3 separate regions of the Homo sapiens genome follow, and all the other regions are reported to be linked to region 3. The links are microRNA targets in miRTarBase. Many come from high-throughput screens and were not tested one by one. Region 3 holds a microRNA gene; each other region holds the end of a gene's coding sequence.
The links. The annotated mature microRNA hsa-miR-520f-3p reads AAGUGCUUCCUUUUAGAGGGUU and lies in region 3 at 5,924-5,945, shown strand. An mRNA with a match to its seed (bases 2 to 7 or 8) in the 3' UTR can be bound and repressed. Matches are read on the target gene's strand: a 7mer-m8 pairs with bases 2 to 8, a 7mer-A1 pairs with bases 2 to 7 and ends in A, and an 8mer does both.

Region 1 (10,654 bases), not on the chromosome of region 3:
GACTTGTCGGCTTCCTGTCTATGATCTCTTTAGAGATCGCCTCCCCAGGGCCCAGCTCAGTGCTTGGCATCACTAGGTGCTCATGTTGTGGCTGGAAATGTTGTCCAGCGGCTTTTTTCTCACCTGTTGCTCGGCGAGCGGGAGGGAGGGTTACAGGGTTCCTTCCTGCCGCTTCGCCAGCCCGCCGCCTTGACCTCTGTCCGGGGCCTCGCTCGGCCCACCGTCTCGCTCCGCCCACTTGGCCGGGCAGGCTGCGCTCCGCTGACCCGGATCCCGCACTCGTGGCGGCCCCGCGCTCAGCGCACGGCACAGGCGGCTTCCGCACTGGGTGCTAACGTATAGACAAGGGGAACATGGTGGCGCCCGAAAACTCGGAGATGCCAGCAACCGCGGAGCCCCAAGGGGGTGTTACAGGGACAAATGTTCCCGCCGCTCGCAGCTCGGTGAACGGGAGCGTTAAAACTCGTTCTTCCCTCCATTCCCTCCTGCTCACCCAGCTACAAAAGCCGCGACACTCAGATACATGGTGACTAAGTGCCTGCCTGCACAATGATGGAGTTACATTGGCGAAAGCACCACACTCCAGGGACTACTTTTCACCTGTATCATGTCCAGAAAATTGACCTTGTCTACATAATAACCAAATCAAGGCTGTGTGACAAAGCAAAATGCAGATTCACAGTGAGAGAACTGTCAAGAGGACCTAGACATTATGTTTGCGATTAGCTCCAGATGGGATTACATGGAAAACCAAACTACAATGAGAAACTTGCCTGATACCTGGTCACCACGCTGAAATGGCCTGAGATGTGTGTCCCAGATGGGACAGACATGGCCTCAGTCTGGCCACTCTCCTCCGGTCCTCTGCTGGCTGCTCTCACCTGTTCATTTTTTGTTGGGTCATACGGTGTGCGGCTGCCTGACCCTGCCCTACTCATGGTTGGGTGGCACATTGAATTTCAGTGTTAGCACCAGGGTAGGAGGCCTTGGGGTGGTCAGGCTGAGGTAAAAGGGACATAGCTCTACTGGGAGGACTTCTCAACATCGCTGTGAAGTAGGTTGCTGTTGCTGTTATTAGTCCCATTTCACAGATGAAGAAATGTGCATAAAGGGCTTAAGCAACTTGCCCAGAGTTACCCAGCTGGCAAGTGGCAGAGCCCGGATTGAGCCCGGGCAGTATGGGTCCAGAGCTGGTGTGCTTAATCACTATGCTGAGTTCCCACTATGATGGGTCTTGGGCTGTACCAGCTCAGAGTTGATACCAAAGTTACAGATTTTTAGAAACAATATGCATTAATGGCTTTGTTATCTATATAAATTTAGGTAGGTAATAGTCTGGTTATACCAATATACCAAACGTTTGTAAGGTTGTTCGCTGCTAGGTACAGTCTTTTAGTGGTATTTTGTGAGTAAACAAGGGGAGAGAGAAAGATAAGCTTTCTCTGGCTGCTTGAGGTCTGACTTCAGGGAAGGTACCACTCTGGTCTAAGTCAGCTGAGTTTTAAGAACCCCTTCCAGAAGAGAGATGAAGCAGTAGAATGAAATTTTTTTTTTTTTTTTAAGACAGAATCTTGCTCTGTCACCCAGGCTGGAGTGCAGTGGTGTGGTCTCAGCTCACTGTAACCTCTGCCTCCTGGGTTCAAGCGATTCTTCTGCCTCAGCTTCCCGAGTAGCTGGGACTACAGGGGCACGCCACCATGCCTGGCTAATTTTTGCATTTTTAGTAGAGATGGGGTTTCACCATATTGGCCAGGCTGGTCTCAAACTCCTGACCTCGTGATCCGCCCGCCTTGGCCTCCCAAAGTGCTGGGATTACAGGCATGAGCCACCACACCCAGCTGAATGAAACTTAATAGGGAGTTATGAGATACAGACGTTCCTAGTAAATTCAGAGGGAGAGAAAACAAGGGCTTTGCTTTGTTCTCAGTGTAGTTAGTATTAGAGCCACCGTTAACAGGACTGTTTTCCTATTACCTTGTCTAATATGCATTGCTTCCTCTGGGGAAAGTGAAAAACTGGAAGGATGAGGACCCAGGTGACTAAGATAAGCTGGTGATATTGAAGGGACAAAACTTTGATGGTTGGAGGAACCCAGCAGAGAAAGGGAAAAGATAAGAGCTCTTGCTAACTCAAAATTTTACTTGGGGCTGATCCTACCTGCTCTCCCAATCCAGAGGCAAGAACAGTTGTCATTTAGTAATTCAGGTCTCAAACATAAGGAGTTAACTTCAAGAGATGTTTAATTATCCAGTCAATAAATATTTGGGAGTCTAGGAAGAGCTATTCAGTGGGCTGAGGCCACAAATAATAATGGGAGGACCACTGCATGTTGAAGTGAGGCCAAGAAACAGGTAGAAATCATCATCCCTCATAGAGTTTGTACGTATGGTTAAAAGGTTACAGGGTAAGTGCACTTCGTTTTCAATCTGGCAGTTATAATGCTGTGTTCCTTTGAAGGAAATGAAATGGCAGGTGAGAATTTTCAGCATACACAGAGCTTCCTCACCACCTTCTCTCTCCCCTGTCGTTCTGCAGCACCCACCGCCCAGCCCAGGGACCCTGGCAGGGACTGCGTCGACCAGCCAGAGCTGGCCAACTGTGATTTGATCCTGCAGGCCCAGCTTTGTGGCAATGAGTATTACTCCAGCTTCTGCTGTGCCAGCTGTTCACGTTTCCAGCCTCACGCTCAGCCCATCTGGCAGTAGGGATGAAGGCTAGTTCCAGCCCCAGTCCAAAATAGTTCATAGGGCTAGGGAGAAAGGAAGATGGACTCTTGGCTTCCTCTCTCTGGCTGGCAAAGGGAGTTATCTTCTGGAATACATTAGCTCTTTCAAAAACCCACCCAGTGTTTAGCCTCAACGGCAGCCAGTTACCAGCTTCTCTCTGTAGCCTTCAGCAGTGTTTGCATCTCTGACATAACCACAGGCTGCTGTTTTCAAGAAGAGCAATCTGTTTGGATAAGAAAAACCTTTACTTTACAGCTTCCCTTTATAATTTGTTACACAGGAATAGTTAAATGCATTTGTTTGTTTGTTTTTTGAGACAGAGTTTCACTCTTGTTGCCCAGGCTGGAGGGCAATGGCGCGATCTCAGCTCACTGCAACCTCCGTCTCCTGGGTTCTTGATTCTCCTGTGTCAGCCTTCTGAGTAGCTAGGATTACAGATGCCTATCACCATGCCTGGGTAATTTTTGTATTTTTAGTTGAGATGGGGTTTCACCATGTTGGCCAGGCTGGTCTCGAACTTCTGACCTCAGATGATCTGCCCGCCTCAGCCTCCCAAAGTGCTGGGATTACAGGCATGAGCCACCACGCCCAGCCATCAATGCATTTTTTTTATTTTTTTTTTGAGACAGAGTTTCGCACTTCTTGCCCAGGCTGGAGTACAATGGTGCGATCTTGGCTCACTGCAACCTCCACCTCCTGGGTTCAAGCGCTTCTCCAGCCTCAGCCTCCTGAGTAGCTGGGATTACAGGTATGTGCCACCATGCCTGGCTAATTTTGTATTTTTAGTAGAGACGGGGTTTCTCCATGTTGGTCAGACTGGTCTTGAACTCCCGACCTCAGGTAATCCGCCCGCCTCGGCCTCCCAAAATGCTGGGATTAGAGGTGTGAGCCACTGTGCCCAGCCCATCAATGTGTTTTAAAGCTAGCTGTCAGGGTTCCACTTAATTTAAAGCTGGGCAGGGAGATGTGTAATGATTTCAAAGTTAACACCTGTTTGTTTTCTAAAGGGCATGCCAAGTCCTGCTGTATCAGGGAAGTATTCTGTGCTAAAATCAGCGATGGTTCATTGCTCTAGTCTCTCTCACCCTTCTAGGCAGTGCATCAGTCAGCTCTAAATCTGGTGCAGAGGGTTAACAGCATAACCCTTGTTGGCAAAATGGAATAGATGTTAAGACCTCAAATAGGGATTTGGGATGAAACAGCTGCAGTTAGCACTGTTATCTGAGCATGAAAGAACTGGAAACGCTCCTTACGTCGAGATGTTGGACCTTGAAGCCCTCCTGAGGCCAACATGCAAATCTGGCTGTGACGGTTCATCTGACACCTGTGTAAAGCTGACCAGCCTGCTCTGTACAGTGACAATGAGGAGCCCCTCTCTTCCTTAAGTAGGAATCTGTGAAGCAAAATGTTTGCTGCCAAAGACAAATCAGACTGTCAGTCATTAAAAACAGCATTAGCAGGATGAGGATAGCAATGGGGAAGGGTTGTGGGCAATGCAGTAACAGGGAAATGGCTTCAGAAATGGTTTGAGTTGGAAGACAACATTCTTCATCTCTCAGGACTTCTAATTCCTTGATGCTAAAAGAAGAGGCATGGATTCTATGAGCTTCCAAGTCCCTTTCCACTTTAACCTTCTACAAATCTTTCAGAGGACTGCCTAGTAGCAAAGGTTATTCCTGGACACAGGAAAGACGGGCATTACAGGGACCAAAGCTCTGAAAGGTGACTTTTATTACCAACACACTGGCTGGAAAAGGGACAAACCACATCACGGGTGAGTGATACTTCTCAGTCTTCTCTACTCATTCAACAAAGGAAATGTGGGCTGGGGCAGAGGTCTTTTTTCATTTAATACTGGAAAAATATTGAAGAGCATCCATGTTCACTTATGGCTGGTTTTGCTATAGAAATTGGAAAATAAAGGCCACTTTTTTGAAATCCCCAGTTTAATTAAACCAGATTTTGGCCTATTGGTATAAACACATCAGAAGGTAAGTTTGAGGTTAGCTAGCAGCTAACTAGTTCTAATAGAACCAGTCACAGAATAGTGGGCTAAGATTAGAGGTAAAACTCATTCTAGGCCAGTGGTTCTCAACTTTACCATATTGCGAGCTTAAAAAAAAAAAACACAACCTGGGGGGTCCCCCTGCCCCACTAAAATTTTGATTTAATTGGTCTGGAATATAGGCCAGGCGTTAGGATTTTAAAAAGATATCCTCAGGTGATTCTATTGCATAGCCCAGGTTGAGAAGCACTGCCCCACCCCGCTGAGATTCTGCATTTCTAACCAGCTCCTAGGTGAAGTCCATGCTGCTGTTACAGACCACACTTTGAGCAGCAAGAATCTGACTTTAGAGATACACTCAGGATTAAAGTATGAATGAAAATATGAATCTTAAGGGTATTTTTCTAGTCACTAAACTAGGGATTTACAGCAGCAGTAGAATGGAGAGTAAGACCAAAAGAACGAAAAATAAATTCATTTACTAATAAAGGAAAGGGGAAAGAACAGCCCTTCATGGGCAAAAGCTTCTACCATGAACATTTATTTTTGTTAAAGCAGATTATAAATTTTCATCAGTACAAATATATATAACTTACATTTGATTGTAAGGCCAACGTTCAAAAGTAAAAATGAGATGAGCTCTCTTATTGTTATCCGAGGTCAAGAGGCTGCAACTGTCAAGGGGATGTTCTCACCAAAAGGGGGTTTGGGGGAAGAGGACACACACAAAGCTAATAAAACCAGAATCCCCATCCCCACAAAACTCATGGGAACAAAATTTAAAGGATAAAACAAAACCCACCAAGACCCATATTACAAACCAATATGGTAACCTGTGTTCCCTTCTATGGTATGATTATGTCATGTTACCTTAGTGTTAAAGGATTAACATAAGGAAACTGCAGCAATATATAAAAGATATATTCTCTATAGAGCATATTTCGATTGATTCCATTAAAATAATGACATTAGAATTCCATCATAGGTTTAAAACCAGGACAATACTGCTTTTCCTTTATTTAAAAAAAACTACAACCTAGTGACTGTATTGGTCATAAGCATGATTGTTGTTGCAATGTGCTACTTACAATGAATGACTGACAGAAAACAAGCTAGGGATCCTGTCTGCAGCTTCCAGCCTTTCCTCTTTTTATTTCAGTAGGCATCAATGATAAATCAATCTTATGTACAATTTCTTACAACTAGCCCCTTTACCTTTGGCAAGATTACTTACAACTCATACAACTTCTTAATATCTGAGAACTATTTAAAATATTCTAAATGCATAAAAATAAAGATTTTGGCTTTTGATATATATAATATTTATTCTGTTACTCAAAATGGAAGCTCAACTTCTCCCCCAAAATATAGCTCTGCTGGGCAGTTGCTGATATGCCCTCCTGGGAATTCTGGCAGCATAGCGTGCCTCTCTGTTCCCCAGCCTGAGCACAAACCACTCTTCTTGATCTCTAATACAGGCCACTACTGACAGGAGGCAGGTGAATGGCCTGAAAAACAAAGGGAGATTGCTTTGCTTCCTGTTGTGTTTTACATTTCAGTAAATGTGCTTGGAATATAGATTCTTGTTCAGATACTTTGCCTCTCTGTTGCCAGAGATTTGTAAGGGGGTAAGGGAAGAGGGAGTACAGAAAGCAACATTTCCTTGACTTCTTTAGCCTAATTGCAAGGCAGCTTTTCTCTAGGAATGCTTTTTCCCATGTCTTTCAAAATCACCCCTCACAGTACTCTGGGCCTGGACTTGTTCCTTGGGACCTTTGGGATTAGTGAAAAGAGTACTAATCAGGAGACAAAGTCTGTTTTGCTCCTTTGACCGCTACCCCCTGCTCCCTGTCTGGTATGGACAAGATACATAGCCATAATGATTGCTTAAAGTTCAATTTCAAACGTCTTCTGTAAGTCACTGGAGAAAGGGTTGGTAGGGGAGGGATTAGTACGCTGCTTGGACTTATTTTCTAATGCAGCCCACTGGGCTTCAAAAGGATCCACTGGGCAGGTGCCTGTAGGAACCTCTGTATGCCTGTCTGCTGAGGCCAACCTGCCATCATCTACACCATTGAAAGCTGCAGAACCGTTGAGGTGCTGAGCAGGAGGCTTAAAGAAGGGACTGGTGGTAGCACTGCTTGCCTCGTAGTGAGGGAATGTCTGCTGCCTGACCAGGCTGGGTGACTGATGGGGATGGGCAGCCTGAGGGTGGCCTGCAGTGCCAAATACGTTGGCCACCATCTGGGAGGGAGTGATGCCCACCACAGGCACATTAGGGGCTGGATAGGGCATTCCATTGGCCACAGGATAGGACTGGGCAGGGACAAAGGCTGGTTGCAGGGCTGGGACCACACCCACTGGCACAGGCTGAGAGGTGAGGAATGCATTCCCTTGGAAAGGTGATGCTGGCTGGGAGATGGCAGTGGGTGGAGGAGGCTGGAGAACTGGCTGCAGAGGAGCAGCTGAGGCCTGGGGCTGCTGAGCCCGGACGCTCTTAGACACCTCTTCTAACCATCGGTCGGCCTCAGAGGGAGTACGTCTATGACCGGCCTGGAAGAGACCTGGAGAGGCAGCACCAGAAGATTGACCCCACTCGGTCCCTGGAACCAACAAGATGAGAGACAAAAGAATCAGTTAGGGGCATCTTTCCTCACCTTATAATCTTGGTTATTTGAATGATCCTAACATGTACAACATGTCCCCCCCTAATGGGACATTTTGTGGTTTTGATAGGTAGGAGTAAAGTCTCTATTACCAACTGGGATTTTGTGGTAGGATGAAGAAAACTTGTCAAGACCATGCTGCTGTGTCAGCCACACTGAAGCACTGTCTAGATATGGCTCAAATGCATTAAACCACGGCAGCTGACTGATGTCAGAAACCCCTCGCTGTTGCTATGGCTCATCCACAATACAGAAACTAGCTGGTTGTGGTAGCTCACACCTGTAATCCCAGCTACTTGTGAGGCTGAGGCAGGAGGACTACTTGAGCCCAAGAGCTGGAGGCTGCAGTGAGCTATGACTGTGCCACTGCACTCTGGCCTGGGCAACACAGTGAGAATTCTGTCTTAAAAAAAAAAAAAGGCCACGTGCAGTGGCTTATGCCTGTAATCCCAGCACTTTGGGAGGCCGAGGTGGGCAGATCACCTGAGGTCAAGAGATCGAGACTATCCTGGCCAACATGGTGAAACCCCGTCTCTACTAAAAATACAAAAATTAGCTGGGCGTGGTGGTATGCATCTGTAGTCCCAGCTACTCGGGAGGCTGAGGCAAGAGAGTTGCTTGAACCTGAGAGGCAGAGGGTGCAGTGAACCAAGATACTCCAGCCTAGTGACACAGCGAGACTCCGTCTCAAAAAAAAAAAAAAAAAAAAAAACACCTAGCTTGCACATCCTCTAAAGGGCCCAAGGCAATTCATCTTCTGCTCTAACAGAGCAAAAAGAAAATAACCAGTGACCTGGCCATATCTTGCTGGCCTCTGCCTGGCTTCCAGAAATATGTTGTCTTTTTGGTGAACTGCCTTTATTACTATGTTAAAACCTTTTGAGGCCGGGTGTGGTGGCTCACACCTGTAATCCCGGCACTTTTGGAGGCCAAGGCGGGTGGATCACGAGGTCAGGAGTTCGAAAACAGCCTGGCCAACATGGTGACACCCCATTTCTACTAAAAATACAAAAATTGGTTGGGCATGGTGGCATGCACCTGTAGTCCCAGCTACTCGGGAGGCTGAGGCAGGAGAGTTGCTTGAACCTGAGAGATGGAGGTTGCAGTGAGCCAAGATCATGCCACTGCATTCCAGCCTGGGTGACAGAACAATACTCCACCTCCAAAAAAAAAAAACTTTTTGGTTTTATAATTAATAGATGTTTTTTATACAAAACTAGAAAGTACAAAAAAGCAAAAATGAAGTGCTTTTTCTAGCACTTTTTGTAGGCCTCCTATTGTAGGAGCAGGGCCCCCTCTTTCTACAGGAATGTCTGCACATCACCAAATCCGGTGATGGATTCTCTGAGGTGGGGCCCTGGAATCTTTTTTTTTTTTTTTTTTTTTTTTGAGACAGAGTATTGCTCTGTTGCCCAGGCTGGAGTGCAGTGGCGCAATCTTGGCTCACGGCAAACTCTGTCTCCCAGGTTCAAGCGATTCTCCTGCCTCGGCCTCCTGAGTAGCTGGGACTATATGCGCATGCCACCGCGCCTGGCTAATTTTTGTATTTTTAGTAGAGATGGTTTCACCATGTTGGCCAGGATGGTCTCCATCTCCTGACCTCGTGATCCACCCACCTCAGCCTCCCAAAGTGCTGGGATTACAGGCATGTGCCAACACACCCAGCCGGAATCTGTATTTTATAAAAGCTCTATGGGTGGGGCTCTGTTCCACAGTCCTGTTCCACAGTCCTAATGACTATCAGTCTGATCTCTTTTGTTCTCCTTCACCATCCTTTCTTATGTAAGCAACTTATTTCTAGGAGGGAACATAGTTTTCCTGAAAGGATTCCTCCCTAGTTCCCACTCAGCTAACTGGCTGAGTTTTAGAACCAGGGTCACTTATCTGATCCCAGAATCCTCAACACCATCTGTGGCCACCTTACCCGAACATGTGGCTGCAATTTCCTTGTTAGCAGCATCAGGGGCATGGGCCCAAGGGTTGGTTTCACGCACAGGCATTGCTACGGGTGCTAGAGCAGTATGGGCTGGCTTAGCAAGCACATGGAAGGCTGAGTCAGTGCCATTAGCTACAACGGGAGCAGACAACATCAATGGAGTTAATTCATGCAGGGTGTACAAGTGACCCCTTGGAGCTGTGTCAGTCAGGTGAATGTACAATACTGGTGGAATGGATAAGAGAGAAGAGTTGATGTTTGGGAAAACCATGATATCTTGCATTGGATGTACATACCATTAGGCAAAGAAGCAATCAGAGATTGTAATTTTTAAATGGTTGTATAGATAAAGTCAAATAACTGTTCTAGGAAAATATGTGCATGGGGAGTGGGGAAATGAAACCTACGAAAACAATTTCAAATTAAGGTGAACAGAGCTGCTGCGTCTTAGGAGCAGCAAAAAATATCTAACTATTCTAGATATAGCTTAGCCTTCGGCATAATGAAGTAGGTATAGCATTTCCCTCTTCTTCACTTTTCCAAAAGGTCAGATTATGTTAACAATAATACTGGTTAAAAATAGGCCAGGTGTGGTGGCTCACGCCTGTAATCCCAGCACTTTGGGAGGCCGAGGTGGGTGGATCACCTGAGGTCAGGAGTTCGAGACCAGCCTGGCCAACGTGGCGAAACCCCGTCTCTACTAAAAATACAAAAATTAGCTGGGTGTGGCAGTGTGCACTTGTAAACCTAGCTACTAGGGAGGCTGAGGCAGGAGAATCACTTGAACCCGGGAGGCGGAGGTTGCAATGAGCCTAGATCACACCACTGCACTCCAGCCTGGGCAACAGAGTAAGACTCCATCTCAAACAAAAAAAAATTACTCTTTGTTTCCTCCTCAAAAGTTAAAATGTATATATGATTCGTTATTATGTGCTAGTCATTAAGCTAATATTTTACATGCATCATTTCATTTAATTATCTCAAAAACCCTACGAGTCTGGTATTATCCCCCTATTACAGATGAGAAATCGAAGTTGGTATGTTTTCATTTGCTTGATAGATTTCTAATTTGCTACACAATTAATTTCAACTTTTTTTGAAGGTTTTTTTTTTTTAACTCTCCTGGTAACTCACAGAACATTTTTTAACAAAGATTTTTTTCCCCCTCTATGATGTTTACAATATCACAACATACCTACTATTCTTTCCTCATCTCCCCTTGTTAAAATCTGCTAACCCTTGTTCCTTTTACTCCAGATACCTATATTAGTTTCTTCTCCTTAGCCCAGCTCTCAATAACATTCAGTTTGGTGTAGACAAG
Region 2 (9,278 bases), not on the chromosome of region 3:
CTGGGCTCACAGCCAGCATCAGCCACCAGACGCGGGAGGGAGGGAGCCTTCAGGGGATCCCAGCCCCCAGGCTTCAAGCTGCCCACGCTGATGCAGAGTGGAGCAGAGACAGCTGCCCCTGAGCCCTGCCCAGACTGCATATTTGTAAGCCAAATAAATGTGATGTGAAACCACCAAGGTTTGACGGCACTCCAGCCTGGGCAACACAGTGAGACCCTGTCTCTTAAAAAAAAAAAAAAAAAAAAAAAAAAAAGGCCGGGCATGGTGGCTCATACCTGTAATCCCAGCACCTTGGGAGGCCGAGGCAGGTGGATCACGAGGTCAGGAGATCGAGACCATCCTGGCTAAAACAGTGAGACCCCGTCTCTACTAAAAATACAAAAAATTATCTGGGCATGGTGGTGCTTATAATCCCAGCTACTCAGAAGGCTGAGGCAGGAGAATCGCTTGAACCTGGGAGGGGGAGGTTGCAGTGAGTGGAGATCACGCCACTGCACTCCAACCTGGGTGACAGGGTGAGACTTGGTCTCAAAAAAAAAAAAAAAAAATTGCCAGGCGTGATGTCTTACGCCTGTAATCCCAGCATTTTGGAAGGCCGAGGCAGGCAGATTATCTGAGCTCAGAAGTTCCAGACCAGCCTGGGCAACATGGCAAAAGCGCATCTCTACTAAAAATACAAAAAATTAGCCTGGTGTGGTGGTGTGGGCCTGTAATCCCAGTTACTCGGGAGGCTGAGGCACAAGAATTGCTTGAACCCGGGAGGCAGAGGTTGCAATGAGCAGAAATCATGCCATTGCACTACAGCCTGGGTGACAGAGAAAGACTCCGTCTCAAAGAAAAAAAAAAGGTTTAGGGTTGTTTGTTACAGAGCCTTAGATGATTGGAACAGGTTGCAGCCTTGGTTGTGGCAGATTTCTGCCCAAAGATAGTTTGTGGGGGACAGTGAGGTTTGACGGGGTTCTTCAGCCTGAGGCCTCTGGGCTATTTGAGATCTCAGGACCTGGATTCCAGTCAGGCCACTCAGCTTTGACACCTATTTCTGCTAACCTTCCTCACTGGAACCCTGCTCTGTCATCTACCCAAGCCTGGCTGAGACTTGTGATGGTTAGGGCAGGCCCTGCCTACATTTGTTTGTGTTTTGTATACAATTTGCATATATCTGCATGATCATATTTTGGTGGATTTTTATTTTTTTTTTTGACAGAGTCTTGCTCTGTTGCCCAGGCTGAAGTGAAGTGTCGTGATCTCGGCTCACTGCAACCTCCACCTCCCAGGTTTAAGCAACTCTCCCACCTCAGCCTCCCGAGTAGCTGGGATTACAGGCAGGCACCACCATGCCTGGGTAATTTTTGTATTTTTTAATAGAGATGGGGTTTCCCCATGTTGGCCAGGCTGGTCTTGAACTCCTGACCTCAGGTGATCACCCGCCTCGGCCTCCCAAAATGCTGGGATTATACGCGTGAGCCACTGCACCCAGCCTTATTTTCGTGGGGTTTTTTGTTGTTGTTGTTTTGTTTTTTTTTGAGACAGAGTCTCGTTCTGTCACCCAGGCTGGAGTGCAGTGGCATGATCTCAGCTCACTGCAGCCTCTGCCTCCCCGATTCAAGCAGTTCTACTGCCTCAGCCTCCCGAGTAGCTGGGATTGCAGGCATGCACTACCACGCCTGGCTAATTTTTGTAGTTTTAGTAGAGACGGGGGTTTCTCCATGTTGGCCAGGCTGGTCTCGAATTCCTGACCTCAGGTGATCTGCCCACCTTGACCTCCCAAGGTGCTGGAATTATAGGCGTGAGCCACTGCGCCTGGCCCATTTTGTGGTTTCTAAACATTTCCAGACACCTCCCATCTGGGACTCTTAGAAGGGACAGGGGCACTGGATGTTACTTGTCTACTCCCCCAACCCCACAGGGTTGACTTGAACAATCACCTCCCCAGGCTGCCCTTGGATGGCTGAAGTTGTTAAAACATCTATGTGTGCAAAGTGCCGTGTAAAGAAAGAGTTTTATATCTATATTTGAGATAGTTCTTTCCTGGGATAATCAGGGAAAGTCAGCAACCTCCCTGGAGATTCAGGATAGGCGCCCTATAGGCCTCAGCGCTCTCTTGCCTGGTTCAGCATCCCTAGCACCGTCACTGGTCCTGACCTGACCTCGGGCCCAGCTATCCACAGGCCTCTTCTGGAAGTGCCTGGCCAGGTACCTTCAGATGTTCTTTTAGGATCACAATCCTGCTTTCAAGTGAAATTTCATCAAGAATCCAACATGGGCTCGGCACAGTGGCTCACGCCTGTAATCCCAGCACTTTGGGAGGCTGAGGGAGGTGGATCACCTGAGGTCAGGAGTTTGAGACCAGCCTGGCCAACAAGGCAAAACCCTGTCTCTACCAAAACTACAAAACATTAGCCAGGTATGGTGGTTGGTGCCTATAATCCCAGCTACTCGGGAGGCTGAGGCAGGAGAATTGCTTGAACTTGGGAGGCGGAGGTTGCAGTTAGCCGAGATCGCACTACTGCACTCCAGGCTGGGCGACAAAGTGAGACTCTGTCTCAAATTAAAAAAAAAAAAAAAAAAAAAAAAAGCCAACATGTAATAAGACAGAAAAAATATGGGAAAAAATATTGAGCTGGTCTGGGTGAGGGTGGGTAGGGAGAGTGAGGAGGCCCTCCAGAGAGCTCCCCCTCACCCCAGCCATAGCCAGGGAGCCCAATTTACCCACTGCTCTCCTGGTACGTTCCTCTCGAAAGGTGCCCCTGGGTTTAGAACCTGGCTTTCCAGGTCTGCTGAGCCTCCTGGGTGTGAACCCAGGCTTTCAAATTCAGCAGTAGCTGCATTATACTGCTGCCTCTTACTAAGCTTGAGGCCAGCTGAGACCTTCGGATCTTTGTCAGCATAACTGCCATTAAGCCCAGCCTCTCTCGAACCTAAGCCATAGCAGCTCCAGGCAACTGGCTTCAGGAGCCTGGACTGAGAGACAATGGCAGAACAGAGAGGCCTGGCCGGAGTCCTGGCTGAGTGCCCTGGAGGGAATCACTCAGTCACAGCCTGTTTCCTCAGCTTCAGAACCGGGAGGAAACCAGTCCTTCCTCATAGACAGTGCGTGAAAAGCACACAGCCCTGCCTGGCCAGCACCTGGAGAGCGCTTAACCTTGGCGGGCTGAGCGAGCAGCCGCCTCGCTGCTGGCCGAGGAGGGGTGGGGCGGTGGTCAGAATGCAGAGCCTGGAACCTGGCAGCCTGGCCTGGATACAGACTCGGATCCTGTGTGAGGATCAGACTGACCAACTGCCTGTGTGGGATTGTGGACATTTCCTTCACCTCTTTTTTCTTGGTTTCATCAACTATAAAATGGAGATGACCAGCCAGGCACGGTGGCTCATGCCTGTAATCTCACCGCTTTGGGAGGCTGAGATGAGCAGATTGCTTGAGATCGGAAGTTAGAGACCAGCCTGGCTAACATAGCGAAACCTTGTCTCTACCAAAAATACAAAAATTAGCTGGGTGTGGTGGCGCACTCCTGTAATCCCAGCTACTCAGGAGGCTGAGGCAGGAGAATTACTTGAACCCAGGAGGCAGAGGTTGTGGTTGAGCTGAGATTGTGCCATTGCACTCCAGCCTTGGCAACAGAGTAAAAAACTGTCTCAAAAAAATAAATAAAATGGAGATGACGGTCACTAGCATATCTTAGTCACAGGGAGGGGTGAGGACTCAGGAACTGCACCTCATGTGGCAGAGAGCTGTAGTGTATAGGGTCTGCTGTTACTATCCCAGGTTCTGGGCCTGTGAGGGCCCTGGCCCACCCAGCACCGCAGCCCCTCCCCCAGGACCTGACACAACCACCCAAAAACTCCAGGTTCACTTTGGCAACAGGACTTTTATTCAGTCAAAATGAGCAGAGTGTGACAAAACCCAAGTAAGGCCAGGTGGCCCCCCAGCCCCCTCCTGCCCCAGCCGCACCCTTCCCAAGGGAGAGGGAGGCTCCCGAGAGAAGCTGCTTTGGGAACAGAGGGGGCACTGCCTTGGAGCTTTGTGGAGCCCTGGGCATCCACACATCATTTGGGAGAAGGGAAGGGACTACCCTTCCCCAAGTCCACGCGGACACAGCTCTAGTTTTCTAGGAAAACACCACAAATTCTATCTTCTTCAGCTAATTAACTAAAGTTCAGGGTGGAGGTGTCCCTAGAGGATTGGGGGTCAGGGATATTTATGGTCTCATTCTTAAGGAATACACTTATCTTTTTTCTTTAAAAAAAGTTTTTCTTCTGCTATTTAAAAAAATGTTTCTGAGTATAACCAAAAATAGGTATTTGTTTCCTTGGTTTTCTTTTCTTCTTCTTTAACTAAGTAGTTCAAAGAACAACACAACAGAAAAGAGTAACAAAAAGTCACAAGAACATAACCCTTAACACACCTTGTATAAAAATAGCTTCCGGCCATGGCTGCTGACAGTGGATGCTCCCCTGTCGAGGGGTGGATCAGGCTGGCTGGGTGCCTGAGGCTGGGGCGCCTCTGCAGGGGACACCCACACCCCCTCACCCTCCCACACACCCATCCCACACATGGTACATTCCAGGGGCCGGGCCTGCAGGACAGGAGGCAGGCGGCCAGCTGATGCCACCCTCCCAAGCCCAGGTTCCTCATGGGCATCCCCATCAAGGATGGGCTGGCTCAAAATGGGAGTGGACAGACAAGACGGGGACAGGCGGTGTGCTGGGAGGTGGCTCGTTTGGACAATTTATACTTCAAGGAACAAATTTCCTCTCATTTTTGGCTGCTTTCACATTTTTTCTCTGCCCAATCCATTTCTATTTCTGTAGGCCACAAGAGTTCCCCTTGGTGGCCCAACCTCTGGCCTCTCCTCTGCAGGAGAGGTAGGTGGGCTGTGGGCAGGAGGGGCGGGGAGGCAGGTCCAGTGACAACACAGCCCACAGAGCCAGCGAGCCTTGAGGTAGACATTTTCTTTCACATCTGGAAATGGGGAAGTGCTTTTTTTTTTCTTTCACACCTGGAAACGGGGAAGTGCTTTTTTTTTTTTTTTTTTTTTTACTCTGGACAACAGTGTGGGAAGGGAGAGGGGGTCCCCAGCAAGGGGACTTGAGGTAGGAGTGCATTCGGGCTCTGTGGGGTAAGGGGGCTGAGGCCACCGCCCCACTGCCCCCCAGGACATTCATTCCGGCTGAGGTAGGTGCTGAGAGCCAAAACAGCAAAAATCCATCCTGAGAAAACAAAGTCGGTGGAGGGTGACAGTGTCAGGGCCCAGCTACAGCAGGGTCATCTTTTGGAGTCTAATTCACCTTCCTCTATCTCTCTCCTCTTTTTTTTTTTTTTTAAGTTTTGCTTTTTAAAGAAAAATGTTAGTTCAGTTCCAAGTCATGTGGGTACCAGGCAGAGGCAAGGGGGCGTCAGCCCAGGGAAGGAACAGGCTCCTGCAGGAACTGCTCCAACTCCTGATGGGTGTTAGGGCCGGGGGGTCCCTGTCAAGGCTGCCTTGGGTTTTGACAACCCAAGAGGCAGTCAGGATAGAAATGCTGGGGAGCCCCCAGGACCATCCAAATCCCACATGACAGTAGAAATCTTGCTTTTGACCTGAGAATGGGCCCCGCTCCGTCCACCCTCTGGAGCCTGCCAGACACTGGCTACTGTTCCGAGTGAGCTGGCTGGGTAACCCGGGCCGCTGCAGGCCTGGAAGCCTGGCCTTCACTGAGGAGGCCAGGGCCTCCATCTGGGGGTGGTGGGGCAGCCGCCAGGCCGGCGCAGGGAGCCGTGGCCTCTGTGGTCTTCGCCTCCGTCGTCTTCCCCTCCATCAGGCCGCACCCCTGAAGTGGCAGCACGGAGAGCTGGGTCTCCTCACACGGAGCGGGGGCTGCAGGATCCTGCTGGGGAAAGAGCCCGTCACACAGGCGTCAGCTTGAGGGCCAGGGCGCCAGGCTCCAACTCACCCCACTTGGGCCTTAGGGTCTCCAGGTCTCCCTGCCTGACTCAGGGACACAAAGAGAAGACCTGCAGTTTGACTAAGGCCAATGATCGAGGCCCGTGGCCAAGGTGAAGGGGGGCAGGATTGGAAGGTGGCAGTGTCAGAGCCTGAGGCGGGGGTTTGTTTAAGACATGGGCACTCACTGTGGGTCTGGGGTCCGGCTGCCCTGCTGCGCTGGCCGGGGGGAACAGCTGCTCCAGCTCCTTCATATCCACACGTTTCTCGTCTCGGCCCAGCTGGCCCCGCTGTCCCCGTCTCGCCCCATTTAGGGCTAGAATGCCAGGGTCCCTCTGGCTCCGGGGACCCTGTGGAGGGGACAGCTGGTTTTCCACATCTTTACACAGGAGGACCCTAAGGGTTAGCCAAGAGTTGGGGGGAGGGAGAGAGAAAAGAGACAGAGGCAGTGAGCCCACACTCACCTTCTCTAGGCCTAGTCCCCCACACACCAGCCCAGCCCCTCTCCCTGGCCCAGGACCCACCTGCCCCTTTGGCCGAACAGGAGGAAGAGGACACAGAAGATGATGCAAGTGACCCCGATGTGGATGCCGATGACGATGCCTGTGGTGGACGTCTGGTTGGCGGCCTCCTCCTTCCGGCAGTCACATGGTGGGCTCAAGGCTGGGGACAGGGACGGGTTGGAGGCTTTGGCTCTCCAGGTCTGAAGCACTCCCAAACACCCAGCCTCTGGGGACTCCTCTTCCTTCAGCTGCTCCCACTCCCAAGTGGGAGTGGGAACATCCTTTGACTTTGCCTACAGGACTCCAGACCAATCTTTTTGGTTCTTTTTACCAGATACTAGGAATAGCATGGACCATTTCATCCTTGCCACAGCTTTGTAAAGTAGGTACTATTATCCCTGTATTATAGAGAAAACTGGGATCAGAGAGGTTAAGTAACTTGACCAAGGTCACACAGCCAGCATGTGCATGGCCAAGCTTCAAACTGTGGTCTAAGCCTGTGTTTTCAAGCGTGGCACATGCTATCTCACCCCATTACTTTCCCGGCTTCCCACCCACTCAGCCCCGCACTCCATCCCCAGCCCTCACCTGTCCTCTCAGATGCTCCCCTCAAAGACACAAAGCGGACTGTGGCATTGCCATCTCCATGCTGGTTGTAGGCGAGCAGCTTCACCTCATACACTGCAGTGGGGTCTGGAGGAAGGCAGGGCGGATGAGCAACTGCCCCTGCCCAACCACGTGCCCTGTCCTAGCCAGGAAAGGGAGGTGACCCCTGTACGCCACCTCCTGGCCCTCAGCGCCGCACTCTGCCAAGCCCCCTAGGCTCTGGGCTGTGTCTGCCTCACCGAGCTGGCTGAGGTTGTAGGAGGAGACGGTTCCAGGCAGCAGGATGGGGCCGGTGAAGGAGGTCTTGCTTGCTGGGCGGTAAAACAGCTTGAAGCCGCCCTCGTGCTGGGCCAGCCGGGGCCAAGGCTCCCACAGCAGCTGCAAGGAGGAGCTGCCCAGGACTCGCACTGACAGTGGGGGTGGGGCAGGGGCTGCAGGTAGAGAAGGAGGCCACGATGTGAGGACCCAGTGGAAGCTCTATCTTTCTACCTTCCACCTGTGACCCCGACCCCCAAAAGCCTGACAGCCCTCTGGCCTCTGGCCAAGGGCATGTGCTTATGAAAGCAGCACCTTCCTAGGAATTAGAAAAAGAAGCCCTTTCCTCCAAGTAGACTCAGCCCTGACAGCCTCAGGGCCGGGCACCCTGCACAGCGCACAACCAGAACAAGTGTGCATGGTGGTTCTGCTCTGATACCCTGAGTGAGTGCCTGTGGTTTTGTGCTCCACACCCAGGCCTCACCTTCACCCAGGGTGCTAGCTAGGGTGGGCACAGAGGCTGAGCTGGCCCCCCTTGGTGTGTAGGCCTTGATGTAGAAACTGTAGGCTGTGGAGGGCTCCAGGTCGCTGACCAGGTGCTGAAAGGTGCTCTTGCTGACTGCCTCCTGATACTCCAGCTCCGGTGGGTCTGGAGAGGCACAGGGTGGGCAGGGGAGTGTGAAGGACTGGGGGAGTCCTGCCAGCATTGGTGAAATGAGGGCAGCCAGGGTGCCCGGGGGGACAGCGGGGAGAAGGAAAGGGAGGCATCGGGTCACGACGTGCAGGATTGGAAGGAATAAGAAATAGTGAATTAGAGGAAGGGGCAACAGAGCTGGCCACGCGCACCAGCAGCCTTCCTGATGTGCAGGACGTAGCCGATGATCTCCTTGGTGTTGGCCAGCGGCTCACTCCAGGACACACGCACCTCAGTGGAAGACACAGAGACTGCCCGCACATTGCGGGGAGGCCCGGGGAGCCCCTCAGCCCACAGTACGGTCAGCCTGGCACTGGCCTGTGATGAGCCCGCACTGTTCTCGGCCACACACTGATAAATGGCTTCATCCTCAGGACCGATTCCAGAAATGGTCAGTGTGCTGCAGGGGAGAGAGACAGCCTCAGGTTCCCTCCTCCCTGGAGGTTGACCAAATCTCCCCATTTGAAAGATGGAGAAACTGAGTCTTTCCAGGAGACAAACGACTTGTGTGAGGTCTCCCAGCAAGTTGGTGGTGGAACTGGGACTCCACCTCAATCTCCAGACTCCCAATTCTGTGCTCTTCCCTGGCAGGAGGTGTACAGCCTACTCAGGCCACTCACTCCAGGCCCCGCTTTCCCTGCTCTCCCCTGGTCCTCACCCCAGCACACACCACACACATACCTGTTGTTATTCTTGAGCCTGACGTGGCCTCCTGGCCCCAGCACCTGTCCATTTTTCAGCCACGTGACATGAGGCGGTGGCTCACCCTGGGCTTGGCAGGTGAACATGGCTGTGGTCCCAGCTGGCCTGGAGATGGACTGGGGATGCTGCACAAACTCAGCTGGGGCTGCGAGTAGAGTCAGGAGGGTGGGGGCGCAGACAGACACAGCTGTGAGTGACGGCATGAGGAAGGGAACAGGGGATGGGACTGGAGATACACAGGGTGAGAGGTGGGCTCCAAACACACATCTGCCCCCTGGAGACTCCTCCAGGTGGGGCCCAGCCTCTACTCCTGCCCAGCTCAGGAGATGGCCCACCTCCCTCTTCCCTCCTCCCCAGGCAGACCTGAGAGGACTCCTTTTTAATGACTATTTAAAAGACTGACATTTGTATCCGAAAGCAATCAAGCTGAACTCCCTGTTCAGGAAATTGTTAAATAAATAAATGTGCTAATAGGTTTGGCTGCACCTCCAGAAAGCGGTAATGATGGGGAGATGGATGAGCCTCAGTACCGGGGGCCCCCTCGCCCCCACATTCAATTCCGCTCTCCTCCAATCCCAGGCCTCAAGCCTCTATTAA
Region 3 (10,654 bases):
GACCCAGCTTCCAGAGCAGCTGGGATTACAGGCATGAGCCACCACACTGGCTAATTTTTGTATTTTTAATAGAGATGGGGTTCACCATGTTGGCCAGGCTGGTCTCCAACTACTGACCTCATGATCCACCCACGTCGGCCTTCCAAAGTGCTGGGATTACAGACGTGAGCCACTGTGCCCGGCCAACACAGAGAATACTCTTATATCACTTTGGGGTTGTTTCTGTTTGTGTATTTTTTAAATATTTTTTGAGACACAGTCTGGCGCTATTACCTAGGTTGGAGTGCAGTGTTGTGACCTCGGCTCACAGCAACCTCTACCTCCCAGCTGAGCCTCCTGAGTTAGCATCTGCAGGCATGAACCACAACACCTGGTAACCTTTGTATTTTTGGACACATGAGGTTTCACCATGTTGCCCAGGCTAGTCTTGAACTCCTGAGCTCAAGTAATCCTCCTGCCTCCGACTCCTAAAGTGCTGGGATTACAGGTGTGAGCCACTGCACCCCACCTGTACTTGTGTATTTCTGTTCAAATTTTATTGAGGAGCTTTTACGGCCTAGACAGTAGTCTATCCTGGAGAATGTTTGTGTGTATGACAATGTATATTCTTTTTTTTTATTTTTATTTTTTGGAGACGGAGTCTCACTCTGTCACCCAGGCTGGAGTGCAATGGCATGATCTCGGTTCACTGAAACCTCCGCCTCCTGGGTTCCAGCGATCCTCCTGTCTCAGCCTGCTGAGTAGCTAGGATTACAGGTGGGCGCCTGGCTAATTTAGATTCCATTTTGGATGCTCCCATCGGGACTGTGTGTCCCTATGTTGGAACTCAGGTGAACGCTTGGCTCAAAAATCCATTGCTGTTCTCTAGAAATCCTGCCTAATTCTCTTGGTTAAAGATAAGGTATATGTAGCAGGCATTGCTTTTTCTCTTTGGGGACAAAACTCAGGAGGATTGCGCCTTGATGAACAAGGCTAACCTGCTGAGCCTTTGAAGCAAGGAACTGGAGATGGTCCTTTTAGGGGTTTATGTTCTGGATTCCAGAAAACATGCAAACAGGGCAAATAAATGCATCTTTATTTTGTGTCCATTTTAACCTGGTCAAGGAAAATTCCAACAGCAACATCAAAAAACCAGTGTTGGAGCAAGAATATGTCATGCTGTGGCCCTCCAGAGGGAAGCGCTTTCTGTTGTCTGAAAGAAAACAAAGCGCTCCCCTTTAGAGGTTTACGGTTTGAGTAAAGCAGCGTTGAAGTTGATGCTGATCTTGGTAATACATTTGCAGAGCGTGCTTATCATCAGACGTGGACGATGGTGGGGTTCTGTTTTGGTTTTGTTTTTTTCTAAGACAGGGTCTCCGTTGCCCAGACTGGAGTGCGGTGGCACTTCTACCTAGATCTCTTGGGCTCAGATGGTCTTCTTTTTATTTCATTTTTTTAATTGTTTGAGATGGAGTCTCACTCTGTCACCCAGGCTGGAGTACAGTGGCAGGATCTCCACAACTACAGCCTCCCAGGTTCCAGACATTCTCCCACCTCAGCCTCCCGAGTAGCTGGAATTATAAGCACCCACCGCCATGCCCTGCTTTTTGTATTTTTAGACAAGAAAGGGTTTCACCATATTGGCCAGGCTCATCTCAACTCTTGCCCTTAAGTAATCCTCCTCCCTGGCCTCCCAAAGTGCTGAGATTACAGGCGTGAGCCACCGCGCCCAGCCTCAAGTGGTCCTCTTGAGTCAGCCTCTCAAGTAGTTGGGACTACGTGGGGCGTGCCACCATACTTGGCTAAGTTTTTAATTTTTGGTACAATTGGGGTCTCTTTTTCCCAGGATAGTCTCATCTCCACAGCTTATGTGGTCCTACACGTGTGAGCCACCTCGTCTTGATGACCCATTTCAAAGAGAGTTGACATGGCCAGGCATTGTGGGGCACACAGTCCCAGCCACTGCAGAGGCCAGGGTCGGAGGGACCTTTGATTTCCAGACTGTACCATGCACTGATCACACCTTCGAATAGCCACTGCGCTCCAGCCTGGGCCAACATAGCAAGATCCCATCTCTTTAAAAACAGATTACATGGCACCTGGTTACAGAGGCTCCATTTGGGTTGGTTATTTGAAATGGGTCTCCCATCAATTTAGTGTAATCAATCGAAATCATTTCCTTCATTAAGAGAGTAAGTAGCCGGGGCATGGTGCCTCATGCCTGTAATCCCAGCACTGTGGGAGGCAAAGGCAGGCGGATCGCCTGAGGTCAGGAGTTCAAGACCAGCCTGGCCAATATGGTGAAACCCTATCACTACTAAAAATACAAAAATTAGCCGGGTGTGGTGGCGTGAACCTAGGAGGCTGAGGTTGCAGTGAGCTGAGATTGCACCATTGCACTCCAACCTGGGCGACTGAGCTGGACTTAAAAAAAAGGTAAGTAAGCCTTCAAGTCTATCCAATCTTAATTTGTAATCTCAAATGGATGTCCATATTAACAAAATTTTCTTGTTTTTCCTGTTTGTGTCTTTTTAGTTTAATCTTCTTGTCCTTGACACTGAAATTTTTTTCTCTCCAACAACTTGCCGTCGTTTCTCGGAATAGAGCTGCTTTCTCTGCAGGAAGGGTGTAGTTGATTCAACCGCCACCCACTCACGCCAGCCCCGGTGAGTTCTTTGACTGCAGCTTCCCTGATTATGCTATTTTCTTCGGGTAATGAACCCAAGGTACCTCGCATTTAAAGGCTAGTTGCTTGGTAAGCTGTGAAATGTTGGCTGTGGCTAATATGAGAAACAAACTATGGTAGACAAGATGAGTCTCAGTGGCAGTGATAATTGTCACATGGGACAAAACCACAGATACTTTTCACAAAAACCTTGAGGACCCTAGAAGGGCCTCTCTAGTAACAGGTGGGATGCGCCGCAGCTCTCGTTGTTGCCGTAGTGAGCGATGCCTGTTCGTCCAGCCCTCAACACCTTTTACTCCGTGGAAGTTATGCCTGCACTGGTTTACAGAACCTCCCTTGACTTGGGTTGAGGTAGAGCTGAAGGGAACCTCAGTGTCCCTTGCAGGTGGGATGTTCACTACGTAGCAAGAGCACAAAGGTGGAGTGCGTGGGCTTTGAGTTTCTATTGGGTAAATGAAGCTGAAATGTAGGGCACATGAGCACGTCATCAATGTACAATTGATTTAATTTTTGTATTTTAGAAACGGAGGTCTCGCTATGCCGCCCAGGGTAGAATGTGCTCTCTCCCTCTCCTCTTCCTAGTATCTGGGACTACAGGTGAATATTTTAATCTATGCACAGGCAAGAAGAGGGCAAGGAGGGTTCTTTTGTTCTGTCTTTGACTTTGTGAGGCAGTGTCACTCTGTCACTCAAGCTGGAGTGCAATAATGTGATCTCGGCTCACTGCAACCTCTGCCTCCTGGGTTCAAGCAATTTTTTTTTTTTTTTTTTTTTGAGTCAGTATCTCACTCTGTCCCTCAGGGTGGAGTGCAGCGGCCCAGTCTCTGCTCCTGCAACTTCTGACTCCCAAGTAGGTACAATTGCAGACACGTGTCACCACGCTTGGCAAAATTTTTTTTGTATTTTTAGAGCTGGGATTTTACCTTGTTGGCGAGGCTGGTCTGGAACTCCTGACCTCAGGTGACTCGCCCACCTTGGCCTCCCAACAAGTTATGCTGATCTTGGTAATAACTTCGCAGAGCGTGCTTCCATCAGACATGGAGGATGGTGGGGTCCTGTTTTGTTGTTGTTGTTTTTCTAAGATAGGGTCTCTTGCCCAGGCTGGAGTGTGTTGGCACTTCCAACCTAGGTGTCTTGGGCTCAAATGGTCCTCTTTTTTCGGACAGTCTTGCTCTGTGACCCATGCTGGAGTGTAGTGACGTGATCTCAGCTCACTGCAACCTCCACCTCCCAGTTTTAGGCAGTTCTCCTGCCTCACATTCCTGAGTAGCTGGGATTATAGGTGCCTGACACCATGCCTGGCTAATATTTGCATGTTATTTATTCATGTATTTATTTGTTTTGAGATGGAGTCTCACTGTCACTCAGGCCAGAGGGCAGTGGCAGGACCTCGGCTCACTCAAACCTTTGCCTCTCAGGTTCAAGCAAGTCTTCTGCCTCAACCTCCTGAGTAGCTGGAATCACAGGCACCCGTCACCACGCCCGGTTACTTTTGTATTTTTTTTTTCACCATGTTGGCCAGGCTGGTCTGAAACCCCTGACTTCATGTGAGCCGCCCGCCTCAGCCACCCAAAGTGGTGGGATTACAGGCATAAGCCACTGCGCCCGGCCAACAATGTATATTTTTCAACATGGGAGATTCAGTTTTGAATGCTCCCATCGGGACTGTGTGTCCCTGTGCTGGAACTCAAGTGAACGCTTGGCTCAAAATCCATTGCTGTTCTCTAGAAATCCAGCCCAATTCTCTTGGTTAAATGTAAGGTATGTGTAGTAGGCAATGCTTTTTCTGGAGACAGAACTCAGGAGGATTGTCCCTCGATGATCTAGGCTAACCTGCTGAGACTTTGAAGCAAGGAACTGGAGATGGTCCTTTTAGGGTTTTATGTTCTGGATTCCAGAAAACATGCAAACAGGGCCAATAAATGCATCCTCATTTTTGTGTCCATTTTAACCTGGTGAAGGAAAATTCCAACAAAAAACCCACAGTGCTGGAGCAAGAAGAGCTCAGGCTGTGACCCTCTAGAGGGAAGCACTTTCTGTTGCTTGAAAGAAGAGAAAGCGCTTCCTTTTAGAGGATTACTCTTTGAGAAAAACAACATTGAAGTTAATGCTGATCTTGGAGATCATGCTTATAATCAGACTTGGATGATGTTGGGGTTTTGTGGGGTTTTTTTGGTTTTTTTTCCTAAGACAGGGTGTCTGTTGCCCAGGCTGGAGTATGGTGGCCCCTCCAACCTAGATCTCTTGGGTTCAAGTGGCCCTCTTTTTTGGGACAGAGTCTTGCTCTGTGACCCTGGCTGGAGCTCAGTATCAGGAACTTTGCTCACTGCAACCTCTGCCTCCCAGGTTCAAATGATTCTCCTGCCTCAGCCTCCCGAGCAGCTGGGATTACAGGCATATGCCACCACGCCCAGCTAATTTTTGTATTATTGTTATGTATTTATTTTTTAACTTATTCATTTTAGAGACAGAGTCTCACTCTGTCGCCCAGGCTGGAGTGCAGTGGTGCGATCTCGGCTCACTGCAACCTCCAACTCCCAGCTCAGCCTCCTGAATAGCTGTCTGCAGGCATACACCACCACACCTGGCTAACTTTTGGTTTTTTTGTACAGATGTGGTTTCCCCATGTTGCCCAGGTTGGTCTCGAACTCCTTAGCTCAGGTGATCTTCCACCTTGGCCTCCTAAAGTGCTAGGATTAGTGGTGTGAGCTGTTGTGCCCCACCTATACTCGTCTGTTTCTGCTCAGATTTTATTGAGGAGCGTTTACAGGGTAGCCTGTTGTCTACCCTGCAGGATGTTTGTGCCTACAACAGTGTATATTCTTCAACATCTTAGATTCCATTTCGGATGCCCCCATGAGGACTGTGCGCTCCTGTACTGGAACTCAAGCGACCACTTGGCTCAAAATCCATTGCTATTCTCTAGAAATCCAGCCCAATTCTCTTGGTTAAAGATAAGGTATGTGTAGTAGGCATTGCCTTTTCTCTTTGGGAACAAAACTCAGGAGGATTGCCCGTTGATGAACAAGGCTAACCTGCTGATTCTTTGAAGCAAAGAACTGCAGATGGTCCTTTTAGGGATTTATGCTCTGGATTCCAGAAAACATGCAAACAGGGCAAATAAATGCATCTTTATTTTTGCGTCCATTTTAACCTGGTCAAGGAAGATTCCCACAAAAAATCCACAGTGCCAGAGCAAGAAGATCTCAGGCTGTCGTCCTCTAGAGGGAAGCACTTTCTGTTGTCTGAAAGAAAAGAAAGTGCTTCCTTTTAGAGGGTTACCGTTTGAGAAAAGCAACATTGAAGTTGATGCTGATCTTGGTAATACATTTTCAGAGCATGCTTATCATCAGAGATGGATGATGGTGGGCTTCTGTTTTTGTTTTGATTTTTTCTTTTTTTTTTTTTTGAGATGGAGTTTCGTTCTTGCTGCCCAAGCACTAGTATGTAGGAATTATTCTTTATGTGAGCATATAGTACATGGAACTTTGTTTTTTTGAGACAGGGTCTCCAAAATATATACATGTTATCATATAATCTTCTATGTATAATTATATTCACACAAAATAGTCTTCTGCACACAGAGAATACTCTTATATCACTTTGGGGTTGTTTTTGTTTGTGTATTTTTTTTTTTTTTAATTTTTTTTGAGACACCATCTGGCTCTATTGCCCAGGCTGGAGTGCAGTGTTGTGACCTCAACTCACTGCAGCCTCTACCTCCCACCTCAGCCTCCTGAATTAGTGTCTACAGGCATGAACCACTACACCTGGCTATCTTTTGTATTTTTACAGATGAGGTTTTACTATGTTGGGCAGGCTAGTTTTGAACTCGAGCTCATGTAATTTTCCCGCCTTCGACTCCTAAAGTGCTGGGATTAGAGGTGTAAGCCACTGCACTCCACCCGTACTTCTGTACAAATGTTATTGAGGAGCTTTTACGGCCTAGGCAGTGCTCTATCCTGGAGAATGTTTGTGTGTAAGACAATGCATATTCTTTTTTTCTTTCCTGTCACCCAGGCTGGAGTGCATTGGCACGATCTCGTCTCACTGCAACCTCCGCCTCCCGGGTTCAAGCAATTCTCCTGCCTCAGCCTCCTGAGTAGCTGGGATTACAGGTGGGCACCACCACGCCTGGCAAATTTAGATTCCATTTTGGATGCTCCCATCATGACTGTGTGTCCCTGTGCTGGAACTCAAGTGACCATGTGACTCAATCCATTGCTGTTCTCTAGAAATCCACCTCAATTCTCTTGGTTAAAGGTAAGGTATGTGTAGTGGGCATTGCTTTTTCTCCTTGGAGACAAAACTTAGGAGGATTCCCCTTGATGAACAAGGCTAATCTGCTGAGCCTGGAGATTGTCCTTTTAGAGGTTTATGTTCTGGATTCCAGAAAACGGTCAAACAGCGAATAAATGCATCTTTATATTTGTGTCCATCTTAACCTGGTCAAGGAAAATTTCAACAAAAATCCCAGATGGCTGGAGCGAGAAGATCTCATGCTGTGACTCTCTGGAGGGAAGCACTTTCTGTTGTCTGAAAGAAAACAAAGCGCTTCTCTTTAGAGTGTTACGGTTTGAGAAAAGCAACGTTGAAGTTGATGCTGATCTTGGTAATACATTCGCAGAGCATGCTTATCAGGCTTGGATGACGGCAGGGTTCTGTTTTGGTTTTATTTTTTTCCAAGACCAGTCTCTGTTGCCCAGGCTGGAGAGGGAGGGGTTGCACTCCAAACTAGATCTCTTGGGGTCATGTCTTGCTCTATTATTATTATTAATTCTTATTTTTGTGTGTGTGTGAGACGGAGTCTCGCTCTGTCACCAGGTTGGAGTCCAGTGGCGGAATCTCAGCTCACTGCAACCTCCGACTCCGTGGTTCAAGCGATTCTCCTGCCTCAGCCTCCTGAGTAGCTGGGATTACAGGCACGCACCGCCATGCCGAGCTAATTTTTGTATTTTTAGTAGAGACCGGGTTTCACCACGTTGGCCAGGATGGTCTCAAACTCCTGACCTCATGATCCACCCGCCTCGGCCTCCCAAAGTGCTGGGATTACAGGTGTGAGCCTCCGTGCCCAGCCTGTTATTTTATTTTGTTTTATTTTATTTATTTTATTTTATTTTGAGATGGAGACTGGCTCTGTCGCCCAGGCTGGAATGCAGTGGCAGGATCTCCACTCACTGTAACTCCCACCTCTGTCGCCCAGGCTGGAGTGCAGTGGCAGGATCTCCACTCACCGTGGAGTTCCAGTGATTCTTTCACCTTAGCCTCGCAAATAGCTGGTATTACAAGCACCCACCAACACACCCTGCCAATTTTTGTATTTTTAGACAAGAAAGGGTTTCGCCATGTTGGCCAGGCTGGTCTCGACTCCTGACCTTAAGTGATCCACCTCCCTGGCCTCCCAAAGTGCTGGGATTACAGGCGTGAGCCACCACGTCCAGCCTCAAGTGGTCTTCTTGTCAGCCTCGCAAGTAGTTGGGCTCAGGTTTTAATTTTTGGTAGAGATGGGGTCTCTTTTGCCTGGGATGGTCTCAGCTGAGCTTAAGTGATCCTAAATGTGTGAGCCACCTTGTCCCATTTCAAAGATAGGTGACACGGCCAGGCATCCTGGGACACACAGGGTCCCAGTTACTGCAAAGGCTAGGGTGGGAGGGTCCTTTGATTTTAAGGCTATACCATGCACTGATCACACCTTTGAATAGCCACTGCACTCCGGCCTGGGCCACATAGCAAGATCCCATCTCTTTAAAAACGCAGATTACATGCCATCTGGTTCCTGAGGCTCCATTTGGGTTGGTCACTTCAAATACAGGCCTTTCATCAGTTTAGTTTAATCAATCCAAACCATGTTTCCTTCATTAGGAGAGTAAGGGCCAGGTGTGTAATCCAAGCACTTTGGGAGACTGAAGCAGGCGGATCAGGAGGTCAGGAGTTCGAGACCAGCCTGACCAATATGGTGAAACCCCGTCTCTACTAAAAATACAAAGATTAAGTGGGCGTGGTGGTGCGTGCTTGTAATCCCAGCTACTCAGGAGGCTGAGGCAGCAGAATCTCTTCAACCCAGGAGGCGGAGGTTGCAGTGAGCCAAGATCGCGCAGGTGCACTCCAGCCTGGGCGACAGAGCGAGGCTCCATCTCAAAACAAAACAAAACAAAAAATATAGGCCTCCACATCTATCCAGTCTATTCTGTAATCCCAATGGATGTCAATATTAATACAATGTTCTTATTTTTTCTATTTATTTGTATCTTTTTAGTTGAATCTCCTTGTCCCTGACACTAAATTTTTTTTATTTTTATTTATTTATTTTTTTTGAAACAGTCTTGCTCTGTCGCCCAGGCTGCAGTACAGTGGCGCAATCTCGGCTTACTGTAGCCTCTGTCTCCCGGGTTCCAGTGATTCTCCTTCCCCAACTCCCGGGTAACTGGGATTTTCAGGCACACACCACCACCCCAGCTAATTTTTTTGTACGTTTAGTAGAGACAGGGTTTCACCATATTGGGCAGGCTGGCCTTGAACTCCTGAACTAAGGTGATCCGCCCACCTCGGCCTCCCAAAGTGCTGGGATTAGGGATAAGGCTAACCTGCTTATTCTTTGTAGCAAGGAACTGGAGATGGTCATTTTAGGGGTTTATGTTCTGGATTCCAGAAAACATGCAAACAGGGCCAATAAATGCATCCTCATTTTTGTGTCCATTTTAACCTGGGCAAGGAAAATTCCAACAAAAAACCCAGAGTTCTGGAGCAAGAAGATCTCATGCTGTGACCCTACAAAGGGAAGCACTTTCTCTTGTCCAAAGGAAAAGAAGGCGCTTCCCTTTGGAGTGTTACGGTTTGAGAAAAGCAGCGTTGAAGTTGATGCTTATCTCGGTAATACATTTGTAGAGCATGCTTATCATGAGGCTTGGACGATGGCGGGGTTCTGTTTTGGTTTTGCTTTTTTATTCTAAGACAGGATCTCTGTTGCCCAGGCTGGAGTGCGGTGGCACATCCAACCTAGGTCTTTTGGATTCAAATGGTTTTTTTAGCGGACAGAGTCTCTCTATCACCCAGGCTGAAGTGCAGTGGTGTGATCTCGGCTCACTGCAACCTCCACCTCCCAGGTTCAAGCGAGTCTCCTGCCTCAGCTTCCCAAGTAGGTGAGATTACAGGTGCCCATCACCACACCTGGATAATATTTTCATTTTTTAAAATTCATTTATTTATGTTTTTGAGATGGAGTCTCACTGTTACCCAGGCTGGAGGGCCGAGGCGTGATCTCTGCTCAGTGCAACCTCTGCCTCCCGGATTCAAGCAATTCTTCTACCTCAGCCTCCTGAGTAGCTAGAATTACGGGAGCCCACCACCACACCTGGCTACTTTTTGTTTTTTGTTTTTTGTTTTTTTTTTAGTAGAGATGGGATTTCACCATGTTTGCCAGGCTGGTCTCAAACCCCTGACCTCAAGTTAGCCACCGGCCTCTGCCTCCCAAAGTGCTGGGATTACAGGCATGAGCCACCACGCCTGGCCTAATTTTTATATTTTCAGCAGAGGCGGGGTTTCACCATGTTGGCCAGGCTGGTTGCGAACTCCTGACCTCAGGTGATCTGCCCACCTCAGCCTCCCAAAGTGCTAAGATTACAGGCGTGAGCCACCACACATGGCCATTAACACCTTTTAGTCCATGGAAATTATTCTGGCACTGATTTATAAAGCCTCATGTGGGGTCAGGTAGAGTCAAAGGGGGACCTCAGTGTCCCTTGCAGATGGGATGTGCTCAGCAAGAGCACGGAGGTGGAGTGCATGGGGTTTGAGTTTTCACTGGGGAAATGAAACCAACATCTTGGGTGCATGACCAGGTCATATATGCAGTCATATATGCAATATGCATGGTGGTGGGTGCCTCTAATCCCAGCTACTCAGGAGGCTGACGCAGAAGAATCGCTTGAACCCAGGAGGCAGAAGTTGCCATGAGCCGAGATCCCACCACCGCATCCAGCCTGGGCGGCA

Region 1: miRTarBase lists PAPLN as a target of hsa-miR-520f-3p. The part of its 3' UTR that is shown has no 7-base or 8-base seed match.
Region 2: miRTarBase lists IGDCC3 as a target of hsa-miR-520f-3p. Seed matches in the 3' UTR shown: 7mer-m8 at 5,011-5,017 and 7mer-m8 at 4,974-4,980.

Annotation. Positions count from the first base shown.
Region 1 is chr14:73,269,960-73,280,613 of GRCh38, forward strand. It overlaps PAPLN (papilin, proteoglycan like sulfated glycoprotein), which reads left to right. Exons shown (of 27, transcript NM_001365906.3): 27 at 2,536-4,664. The coding sequence ends at 2,705. NUMB (NUMB endocytic adaptor protein) reads right to left here. Exons shown (of 13, transcript NM_001005743.2): 12 at 9,322-9,465; 13 at 5,257-7,334. The coding sequence ends at 6,619. Among named protein-coding and RNA genes, the nearest start is that of PAPLN-AS1, 29 kb to the left of the region's middle. RefSeq lists an enhancer at 6,569-7,069.
Region 2 is chr15:65,323,281-65,332,558 of GRCh38, forward strand. It overlaps IGDCC3 (immunoglobulin superfamily DCC subclass member 3), which reads right to left. Exons shown (of 14, transcript NM_004884.4): 7 at 8,661-8,826; 8 at 8,132-8,379; 9 at 7,770-7,934; 10 at 7,270-7,461; 11 at 7,013-7,117; 12 at 6,446-6,584; 13 at 6,110-6,317; 14 at 3,847-5,868. The coding sequence ends at 5,629. Among named protein-coding and RNA genes, the nearest start is that of RNU5B-1, 23 kb to the left of the region's middle. RefSeq lists enhancers at 2,555-3,098, 9,118-9,278.
Region 3 is chr19:53,701,584-53,712,237 of GRCh38, forward strand. MIR520C (microRNA 520c) reads left to right here and starts at 5,870; the gene lies at 5,870-5,956. It overlaps MIR526A1 (microRNA 526a-1), which reads left to right and starts at 4,669; the gene lies at 4,669-4,753. It overlaps MIR518C (microRNA 518c), which reads left to right and starts at 7,152; the gene lies at 7,152-7,252. It overlaps LOC107985346 (a long non-coding RNA gene), which reads left to right. Exons shown (of 5, transcript XR_001753998.1): 2 at 2,515-2,645; 3 at 3,187-3,262; 4 at 5,502-5,624; 5 at 6,686-6,726. It also overlaps MIR518B and MIR524.